Linked DNA regions of Homo sapiens: region 1 is linked to region 2. A link means that fine-mapping ties the variant in region 2 to the expression of a gene that starts in the linked region. Tissue or cell type: whole blood. Region 2 holds a variant in brackets; the other region holds the start of a gene. All regions are shown on one strand. Distances are between the middles of the regions.

Region 1 (5,000 bases), 22 kb before region 2:
AGCCTGGGCGACAGAGCGAGACTCTGTCTCAAAAAAAAAAAAAAAAAAAATCATAAAACAATATCCTTACCTAGCACTATATTATTTCCTATTTTCTCCCCCTCTCTCTTTCTTTTTTTTTTTTGCAGGGGGAGATGGAGTTTCACTCTTGTCGCCCAGGCTGGAGTGCAATGGCGCCATCTCAGCTCACTGCAATCTCCGCCTCCCAGGTTCAAGGGATTCTCCTGCCTTAGCCTCCGAGTAGCTGGGATTATAGGCGCCCACCACCACGCCCGGCTAGTTTTTGTATTGTTAGTAGAGGCGGGGTTTCACCATGTTGGCCAGGCTGGTCTTGAACTCCTCACCTTAGGTGATCCACCCACCTCGGCCTCCCAAAGTGCTGGGATTACAGGCGTGAGCCACTGGGCCCGGCCTTTTTTTTCAGGCAGGGTCTGGAGTGCAGTGGTGCCATCACTGCTCACCGCGGCTTCGACATCCCAGGATCAATCAATCCTCCCATCTCGGCCTCCCGAATAGCTGGGCCTACAGGCATGCGCCCAGACCCTTGGCTAATTTTTTGAATTTATTGTACAGGCAGGGTTTCGCCATGTTGCCCAGGATGGTCTCCAACTCCTGGGCTCAAGCGATCGGCCTGCCTCGGCCTTCCAAAGTGCTGGGATTACAGGCGTGAGCCACCGCGCCCAGCCTATTTTCTCTTTTTAATGGCGCCAGTGACCCATTCACCTATTAAATTGATGTTACGACTCTTATATAGGCCGCTACTCAACGTTAAAAAAAATCATCTTTAACATACTATTTTAATACTAGACCTCAAATCTTAGCTAAGAAGTAGTTTGGAAGGACTGGGGAAGAGAAGGTTAAGAATGACTATTATGTACGGTAAATATGCTAAGAAGCTGATGAAATAACGATAGATTTACTTAGCTACAAAAAGGCCAAACTAGCATTAGACTTCACTTGTCAGCAGTTTTGTTTTTTTGAGGGGGGCGTGGGGGGGGGGGTCTCTGTCTGTCTGAAGGCACAAAAGAGGAAACAGCAGATAGGACTAACGAGGGCTGGAAATTGGTGAAGAACCACCACGGGAGTTGAGAGATGCAGATGAAGGAAACCATGGCTAGTAGCAAGAACTAGGGCAGCGGTAACTAACCTGCCTCAGCCAAGGAAGTGAGGCTGGTCCAGGATGCCAGGCTCAGAAAGGCAGGTACTGACTGAACACACTCCCCGCTTTGGTTCCTGTAGGACGGGTGAGATACCACACCTTGGCAACCACCAGTAAAGGCTCATAGTCTAGCCCTTGGGAGGCCCCGATTTTAGGGCTGTGCTCGGAGGCGACCTACGTTAGGGACTGGGAGAAGCAGGTACCCTGGGAATGAAGAATGGAGAGCAGCGCTTACTCCAAGAATCTGAGAGACGGGGGAGTCAAGCCGCTGCTAGGCCTTCTCTATGACTGCGGGGGTTCGAATACAGTGAGACCCGACAAAAGCGACCCCATTCTGGGTGATAGCACAGTCCTGGCAAAAAAGCAGGCATGGCAAAATACCCCAGGGTCGTCAGGTGGGACCTGGGCCCCGCTCTCAAAGCCCTTCTGGGTCCCCCTATTTCCCACCACCCCTCGCGCGGAGCCCTGAGGCAGTCAGCGTCCTCCAGGCTAGGGAAAGGCGTGGTTTTCCTTCCCCACGTCTCCCGTAAGGCACTGCTGCCAGCCCAGTACTACTGCGTCTTGGCAAGGCTGGAGGTGCTCCCACCTTCACTTTAATTAGCATCTTCTTTCCAGTTTGGGGCTGCACACGGATAAATTGCTGCTCCTACCGCTCCGGTCGCCGCTGCCGCCCTCCAGCACTCTTGCCTGCAAGGGCCACTTCTACTTCCGGGTCACTGTCTGGCTCCACCCCCCCCCCCCCCCCCACTGGGTTCCGGAAAGGCTCAGGGTTGCTCCCGCGTTTCGGTTCAGTGACGTCGTAAATTGGAATGAGGCATCCAGTTTAGCAACAGCAGAGATGACGACTCTGCGATTCTGAGAGTCCCTGGCGAGCCCGGGCTAGCGAAAAGTGGGGGCAGAACGAACTACATCTCCCATCGTGCCAGGAGGCGGTCCCGCCCGTTTCCCCCTGGGAGTTGTAGTCTAACCCCCTCGGATCCAACAGCAACCTCAGTGCGTGAACTCTGTTATCCAGAAGGCCTCGCCCTGCCGCCGCCGAAGCTGGAATTCGTCGGCTAGTAGTTCTCGCCGGCAACTAGAGGAACCTGTTGGCGTGGCCCAGAAGGCTTAGCGGGATTGCACGAGGTTAGTTGCTAAGCAAGGTGGTCTTTGGTCAACTGCCGCCTGGACCAAGGCAACAGGAAGTGAGTACCTCTATTCCGGAAACTAGTTATGAACCCTCCCCGCCCCCCGTCGCCAACATTCCTTCGTTCCCCTAAATCAGCCTCTTGCCCCATTGCTCTTTGCAGGGGTAGAAGAAGGAAGTGTAGCGGGGTAAGGAATGCACCGTCAGGGTCTCTCACAACCCTTTCCCAGCTCTCCTCCCCAACAAACAGTACCTGGGATGGAGCCCTAGGGTAATCGCAGCCACGGGATGGGTCGAGGTGACAGGCTTCAGGGACCACACTTCGGCCTTTGCCCGACCTTCCACAACTTAAGCGAAGAGAGGCCACCAGCCGTAACAGGGCGTTAAAGCCCAGGGGAAGATTGGTCCTTATGACTTCCTGCCTTCCAGCCCTCAGATTCATCGCTACCCCGAGGCTAAGCGCCATGCCTCATATTGACAACGATGTGAAACTGGACTTCAAGGATGTCCTTTTGAGGCCCAAACGCAGTACCCTTAAGTCTCGAAGTGAGGTGAGCAAGCTTCTCTACTTGCTGTTTCTTGACCCCACGCTCCCGGTGGGCCACAACCAAGAAAGATGCCTGTCCTTGTCCTAATATGGTACGTTTTTTGGATTAATGAAATGGTCAATTTCCTGTTCATATCTGCAGGTGGATCTCACAAGATCCTTTTCATTTCGGAACTCAAAGCAGACATACTCTGGGGTTCCCATCATTGCTGCCAATATGGATACTGTGGGCACCTTTGAGATGGCCAAGGTTCTCTGTAAGGTAGGGCTTTCCTCATGCCCCATCCCTATTGGTGTCCAGTTAGCCCAGCTGACTGCAGAGGTGTTTGCATCCCCACCCCCATGCCCAGTCAGTTCTCTGGCAGTTAGCAGTCAGGATGCTCTGATTTACGGTTTTTTCCACTACTGAAGCCCTTTATCTGATAAGTTCAAAAGGCCATCTGAATTAGTGAGATTCAAAGCTAAGTTCTGCTCCGATATTTCTGATATATGAACAGAATTTTCCCTTTTGTCCTGTTTAGCAGTTTGTACACCTTGCCAACTTTTCCCACCACCCAGGTCACCCCCTCACAGTCACATGCATCCCTTCAGTTATGCGATTGTCCACATTAAGCATTCACTGTTTTAGTCCAGAAACTACAGTTTAAGCATTCAAAAATCCTAACTAGAAGATCCTAGGAGAAGCAGCTTATTAATTTTCTTTAATAAGAACAATTCATTAATAAAAGAATACTTCTGCCATTCTTTTTTTAATCTTCCTCTTCTTTAAGTCCTAGGTTCCTGGGAGTTTCTGGGATGTGCCCCAAATGGGATGTGTTTTTCTTATATACAAGTTGTTCACTTTGAAATGGAAGATGCTGCTCCTGTCAGTACTATTACCTGCCTCTATACTTGTTGCTGAGAAGGTAGAGAGTTATCTGGGCACTTTGAGAACATATGCACTCTGCTGGTTGATCCATGTAGCCCTGGTTGATGAATTCTGCTATTGTTTGTGGCTCCATTAGTCTTAAGGACTTCATATCCTTTTTCTATTTTTGATTGCTGTGTCTTTGTGGAATGTCTTGTCATTTCTTTAAGGTTGATAGTTATGCAGTTTTATTTTTACTTTATTTTTATTGCCATTCAGTAACTGCTTAGGAATCTTTCTGTTGCCCACTGTCCATCTGCCCTGACCAGTAGAGTTCAGAATTGGTGACTCTGACTGCAGAGTTAACAGGCGTGCTGTAATACATGAACCTTTTTGGGGACTGTCTTGATGCTTTATGTGGAGCCTGGCTTTCAGTATTGCTGACGAGAGGTAAAGAAATCAGGTTTTAGAGATAAGAGCCAAGTCTTACTGTAATAAAAAGGTTGGATGCAAGCAAACATCTTTTTCTAAGTTTGGTATGTAATCTGATGTGCTCATCATGCCACACTCTGCCAGTATATCTCCAACATCTGCTGACTTCCTATCCTATGGTGACTTTTCTTTGCTTATCAGTATGTTGATGATAGAGTTGTTGAGAAAGCAGAATTCAATACCAGCTTTAGCTAGATATTGTTGATCTCTGAGTACGTATGTAGAGCACTTGTTGCTAGCTAATACATGACTTCCTTGGGTTTCTTGTTAGTTGCAAGATTTGTGCTGTTTCAGCCAACTGCTGTCTCTTGTCTGTTTGCATGTAGACATGTAAGGCACAAACACCAGCATACACAATGGCCTTTGAATGCCTTCCTCAAAGTATTGGGATATTGTTTGCAATCTGTTGAGCTAGAGAATATGAGTTTGATGAGTCATTATGTCCTTGAACTTTATTAAAATGGACTGAATGAAACAGATTTTTTAGCTTGATCCATGTCCCCAACTAGGAAATTTGTCCTTTTTTCCACTAGAGATGGAGACAGGGTAGGGTAGCCCCTTATCAGCTCTTATCAACCTTAAGGCATTACCTTTGGTGAGCATCCAGATCTACTGAATTACTGCTGGTAAATGAACGAGAACATAACCAAAAATAGTTTAGTACTAGGTTACCTTAGGAGGAGGGGCTGAGTCAGTGCAGAGAAACACAGGCTCCATCCAGCTTCTTCATGGTTCTTTCATGTCTGCTGCCTGTCCCACTGCACCAGCAGCTTGTCACCTTTTAAGTCAGAAGCAGTGAATGTGCTGGCAGATGAAATCCAACCCAGAT
Region 2 (5,000 bases):
CTGGGCAAGACTAGCAGAGCAGGCTACCCGGGGGGTTCAGGCTCTGTTCACTGAGCTGCCAGAGACCATGGTATGGTGACATGAGGAAAGCCCTACTTTGTGACACATCATAGCATTCCCAGGGGCCCAGGCTGGGGCAAAGATCAACATAGCTTCCTTCTCAGCTTTGGCCTAATGGCGAAGGTGGCAGCCACCACCAGGAGAGCTGCTGTGTGTGAGGGAGGGGTGGGCAAGTGGGCAGGGGGTCCTCTGCTTCCTCCCCTCAGTTTCCCCACCCCAAGCCATTGTTCTTTCTCAGGAACTCGCTGTCTGAAGATGAAGCCTGCCCCTGTCCCAGAAGGCTGATCTAGAAGGCCAGGCTCTGGCCTGCTCTGCTTTCCCTCCGTGCTTTTCCTAGGCGGGGACGGGGCAGCACGTGTAAGTCTGTATCAAAGATGACAGCCGCAGGCCCAGGAACACAGCATGTGTGTGCCCTCACTACACCCAGGGGCTTGCCCAGCCCAGGATCAGGCCCAGACGGGCTGGGTAAGGGCCTGAGGGATGGAGTTCTCTCCTCTGGAACTGCTACTTGGCCCTCATGGCACAAAACAAACAATGAGTTTGAGAGCCTGTGCATGGTATGCACCACAGTGGGAAGAGCAGAGTTTGCCCCCTACGAGCTGTGAGACCATATGAGATGTGACCGCCAGCTTCCCCATCTGTAAGTGGGGGTAATAATGGCAATAATAAAAATAACAACTACCAATGGAGCACTAACTTTGTGCCAAGCAGTGCACTAAACAACCCTAGGTCCAGGGGCTATTGCTATCCCTGCTTTACAGGTGAGAACACTGAGGCTTGAAGGAGAGAAGTCGCTTGCCCAAGGGCATATAGCCAGTAAGTGCTAGAGCTGAACCCGTATCATTAGGATTCCAAAACTTCGCTTGTGTGTGTGTGTCTCTGTGTGTGTGTGTGTGTCTGTGTGTGTGTGTGACAGAGAGAGAGAGAGACACACGGGGTCTCACTCTGTCGCCCAGGCTGGAGTGCAGTGGCACAAACATGGCTCACTTCAGCCTCAACCTCTCCAGGCTCAGGTGATCCTCCCACCTTAGACTCCCAAGTAGCTGGGACAACAGGCGCACAGCACCAAACCTGGTTAATTTTTTAAAAATTTTTTGTAGAAACAGGGTTTCATCATGTTGCCCAGGCTGGTCTCCAACTCCTGGGCTCAAGTGATCCACTCACCTTGGCCTGCCAAAGTGCTGGGATTACAGGTGTGAGCCACCACACCTGGCCTTCTAATGTACTTAAATTAGAGTTTTTGTGTCCAAAGGAGATAATATTCCTGAAAGGGCCTGGTCAATTCTTCAGTGCTGGGCAAATATTAGCAATGAGTTACTAATGATTCCTATGTGGGCCTTCTGCTCCCTAATTAGATAGTGAGGCAGGGCAAGGACATGGCATAGCACCAGGTGCCCAAGAGGTCTCCCTAAAGGCTGGTGGGACTGAGCTGGGCCGGGAGGTATTGCTAGCTGGCCCCAACCTGCTTGGTTGGGTCCTGACAGAACATACTTGTCCAGACAGAGAGGGAGCAAAGCTGGGAGCCAGGGCAGCCTGTGGGGAAGGCCAGAGTGGAAGCAGGGGTAGGGGGAGAGGCCAGACTCACCCAACGTTGAGGATCTTGGGCCTCTGTAACCCAGAGCCTTCGAGCCGGAAGACGACATTGGTGAGGGTGACGGGAAGGGGGTTCTTGAAGACAATCTGTACTTCACACTCCTGGCCAACCACTGCTGCTCCCAGTAACTGAGAGAAAAAGAGGCCCATCCCCCACGTCAGAGACCCTGGCCAAACACACGGGGACCGTACACTGCACCAGAGAGGGGAAGCTGCTTAGAAGCAAAACCTCCCCGAGTCCCACATTTATCCTCCTGAGAGAAGATTCCCCAGAAGTCAGAGAAGAAACTCCAACCTATTCCTCAATAAAGGCTGTCACAGAACCAGAGACATAAGATCCCATGCTACAGATGAGGAAACTGAGGCCCCAGAGCCGGTCCTTGACCTTCTCCTACAAAGGCTCATCAGGCCAGCCTGCTGCTGGCTTAGCGCCCACCTCTGATGTCCTTATCCCCTGGCCTTCACTCTCTGACCACCCCTCATGCCCCAGCAAACTGCATTCACCGTGAGGGAGAGGTCTGGGGTGCGCAGACGGAAGGTGTGCTGCTTGGCCAGCACCTGCCCGCTCTCCTTGACGTGGCCTGAGACATTGAGCAGCATGGCCCCCTGGTCCACAAGATGGGGCCGGTATTCCTTGTAGGCCACTGGCATGGTCACACGGTCCGCTGTGGAGAAGAGGCATGGCGTCACTGAGGCCTGCTTCCCTACATG[A/C]GGCTTCCCCCAGGGACTCCCCACTGCTCCTGGGGTCTCCATGTCCACAGCCCTGAGGTGCCCAGCCATCCAGGGGGCAGGGCTGGGTAAGGAGCACTTACAGGCCCCTGGTGCCAGCTCCACTTCCTTCTTGGTCTCCTTGAAGATGGTACCACTGACACCAGTATAGAAAGTGACTGAGAGGTAGAGGTGCAGTTTCACTGTGCGGCGGCTGCTGCTGTGATTGATCAGCATCACAGAGACCATCAGATCCTGCCCCATCACCGCGTCCTGTGCCTCCACCTGCATGGCCACATCCTCCGCTGAGCCCCGGTTGGCATACACATTGGGTTTGCTGCCGTGGGCTGCTGCTGTCTCTACTGCCTTCCGCTCTGCGTCTGAGCCTGGGGGTTGAGGGTCAAGGGTGAGGTTCCAATTCCCACGTGGGTGGCCAAGCACTTGGCAGGAACACTTGTTGTGGGGCCCAGAGCTGGCTGGGTTGGGGGAATGGTACCTTCTGGGTGCTTATAGAGGTAGGTGATGTCCTCCCGCATGTTGGAGCTGATGGCCTTTGTGACAATGAGTGTGCCGATGGCCTTCTCCTCCACATAAACAATCTTGAAGCTGCCATCATCCTGCCGCTGCCAGTACACCTTGTCACTATTCACCTGTGGGGGGTGGGGGTGAGCAGGAATGAGTGAGCCAGAGGGTCTGAGGGTGGCCTGACTCCCGGCCTCCTTCCCCTGATCCCAGGAGCTATGGGACAGGGCTTGGTCCCAAGGGTGGGAGCTTCCTGGCAGAGCCCAAGGGGAGACTTTCCAAGACGAGCCAGACGAGGCCAGAGTGCAGGGAAGAAGCTGGTCTGGGAGGCTCCTGGCAGAGCACTTTGGCAATATCAGTAATCCCTCACACTCAATGGCTGACTTTACGACTAGTGAAGCAGTTTCATACCCGTTATCTCTTCTGATCCCGAGTATAGGAAGCAAGGCAGCCTTGATTATCCCCTTTTACAGGTGAGGAAACTGACTTGTATAATGAGTGACTTGCCCCGGGTCGCAGAGCTGGTCAGTCAGCGGTGAAGTTGGGACCAGAGAACCCATGACTGAAGCCCAAGAAGGCACCTGGAGCCCAGCCCTCACCTCAGCAAAAATGAAAGGCGTGTCGTACTTCATGTAGACCAGGCCATTCTTGATGGACTCCACAGAGCAGGGGCCGCAGCAGAAGATGCCTAGAGAGTGAGGCGGGACAGAGGCAAGAGATCTGAGAAGGCGGAGAGGGCTCTTCAGACCCTGGGTAAGGTCCACACAGGGCCCCAGCCCCACCCACTCAGGCCCGGTCCCACTGCCTGGTGGCCTCTGGAACAAGGTCATCAGCCCTGACCCAAACACTTGGGGGTCAGTTGACAGCCAGTGCAACACAGGTATGGAAAACAAAGAGAGAGCGGCTCCATTTGGCTCTCAATCTGCTTTCCTCAGCCCAGGCTGCTCTGCTGGAGGATGGGGGCAGGGTACAGATGTGCGGACCAGCCTGCCTGATAACCAAGTCCCTGACATACTCTTTCATGGCTGGCTGACACTGGATGTCCACCATCTGTGACCCCCAGAGGACAGGACGCCCCATCCTTTATCATAACCAACCCAGAGTCCACAGTGGCCCTGCCTGCTGGCTGGGAGAGCGAGGACACCACCGCCACCACCATTCCAGAGAGATGCGGAACAACCCTCAGCTCTGCAGCCTGCTGCCCTTTCTACTGGGGGGAGCTGGTGGGAAATAGAGTCTGCCCTTATCATACTCAGGAGGCTGTCTAGAAGAGATAGGCTGACAGGAAGAGGCCTGGCAAGAGAGGACAGAGTGGTAAGTGAGTACCATCCAACCGGAAAGAATCTTAGACAAGACATAACACTACACACTCCTTTACAGACGGGGAAACAGCAAGGTGAAGTTCATGCCAGGATCTCACAAGACAGGTGGTGCAGGGAGAATGAAAGGAGCTCAGACTTTTTGAGTAGCTGCTACACTCCCGGCATGCTGCTGGTCCCTTCAGATACAGAATTTCTCATTTAATCCTCCCAATCACCATATATGGTATCTATTACCCCAAATTACATCCAAACCACCAAAGCCTAAAAGTTCGAGGTGCTTGCCCAAGAGCATACATCTGAGAAGTGATCAGGCTGGGATCAAGCCCCAGTCTGGCTGGCCCTGAGCCCCCTGCCTGATGTCCACCCCACCACTTCCCAGAGTTGGGGGCCAGAGCTCAGATCTGCCAGCGTCTGGGACAGGCTGTTTCAGCATCACAGGCATCACCGGGTTGCACAGCTCATGGGGCTGTGTTCACATATCTGAGTGAGAGGGAGGGCACTGGGAAGAGGCCAGGGGAGGAATGTAGGCTAGGGAGGACTCTCTGACCTGGGGTAAGGGAGAGGCTGGACAGAAGGTAGCTGGCAGGGCAGGCCTGGTGGCCTGGGGCTGGGGTATCACGGTAAGAAGGGGTGGGGGTTTGTTTGAGAACAGAGTGTATGGTAGTTCTAATTTCTGCAGAAACACATGTATGTGGACACAGAAAAGAGACCCGTTGGTTATATTAACAGTAATTATATATTAAGGCAGGGTCATAAGGGCTATTTTCTTCTTTGAACCTATCTGAGCCCTGATTT

The links. PIP is the estimated chance that this variant, and not a neighbour inherited with it, causes the effect.
Region 1: GMPR2 starts here. The variant in region 2 is fine-mapped to the expression of GMPR2 in whole blood (INTERVAL, PIP 0.94).

What each region holds. Positions count from the first base shown.
Region 1 is chr14:24,230,505-24,235,504 of GRCh38, forward strand. It overlaps GMPR2 (guanosine monophosphate reductase 2), which reads left to right and starts at 2,425. Exons shown (of 10, transcript NM_001002002.3): 1 at 2,425-2,473; 2 at 2,715-2,836; 3 at 2,975-3,094. The coding sequence starts at 2,750. It overlaps NEDD8-MDP1 (NEDD8-MDP1 readthrough), which reads right to left and starts at 1,863. Exons shown (of 7, transcript NM_001199823.3): 1 at 1,746-1,863. The coding sequence starts at 1,763. NEDD8 (NEDD8 ubiquitin like modifier) reads right to left here and starts at 1,863. Exons shown (of 4, transcript NM_006156.3): 1 at 1,746-1,863. The coding sequence starts at 1,763. RefSeq lists enhancers at 1,727-2,592, 1,759-2,053.
Region 2 is chr14:24,252,507-24,257,506 of GRCh38, forward strand. It overlaps TGM1 (transglutaminase 1), which reads right to left. Exons shown (of 15, transcript NM_000359.3): 10 at 3,483-3,571; 11 at 2,858-3,011; 12 at 2,466-2,747; 13 at 2,158-2,318; 14 at 1,646-1,782. Among named protein-coding and RNA genes, the nearest start is that of TGM1, 8.2 kb to the right of the region's middle. The variant A/C (reference allele first, on the strand shown) is at 2,365.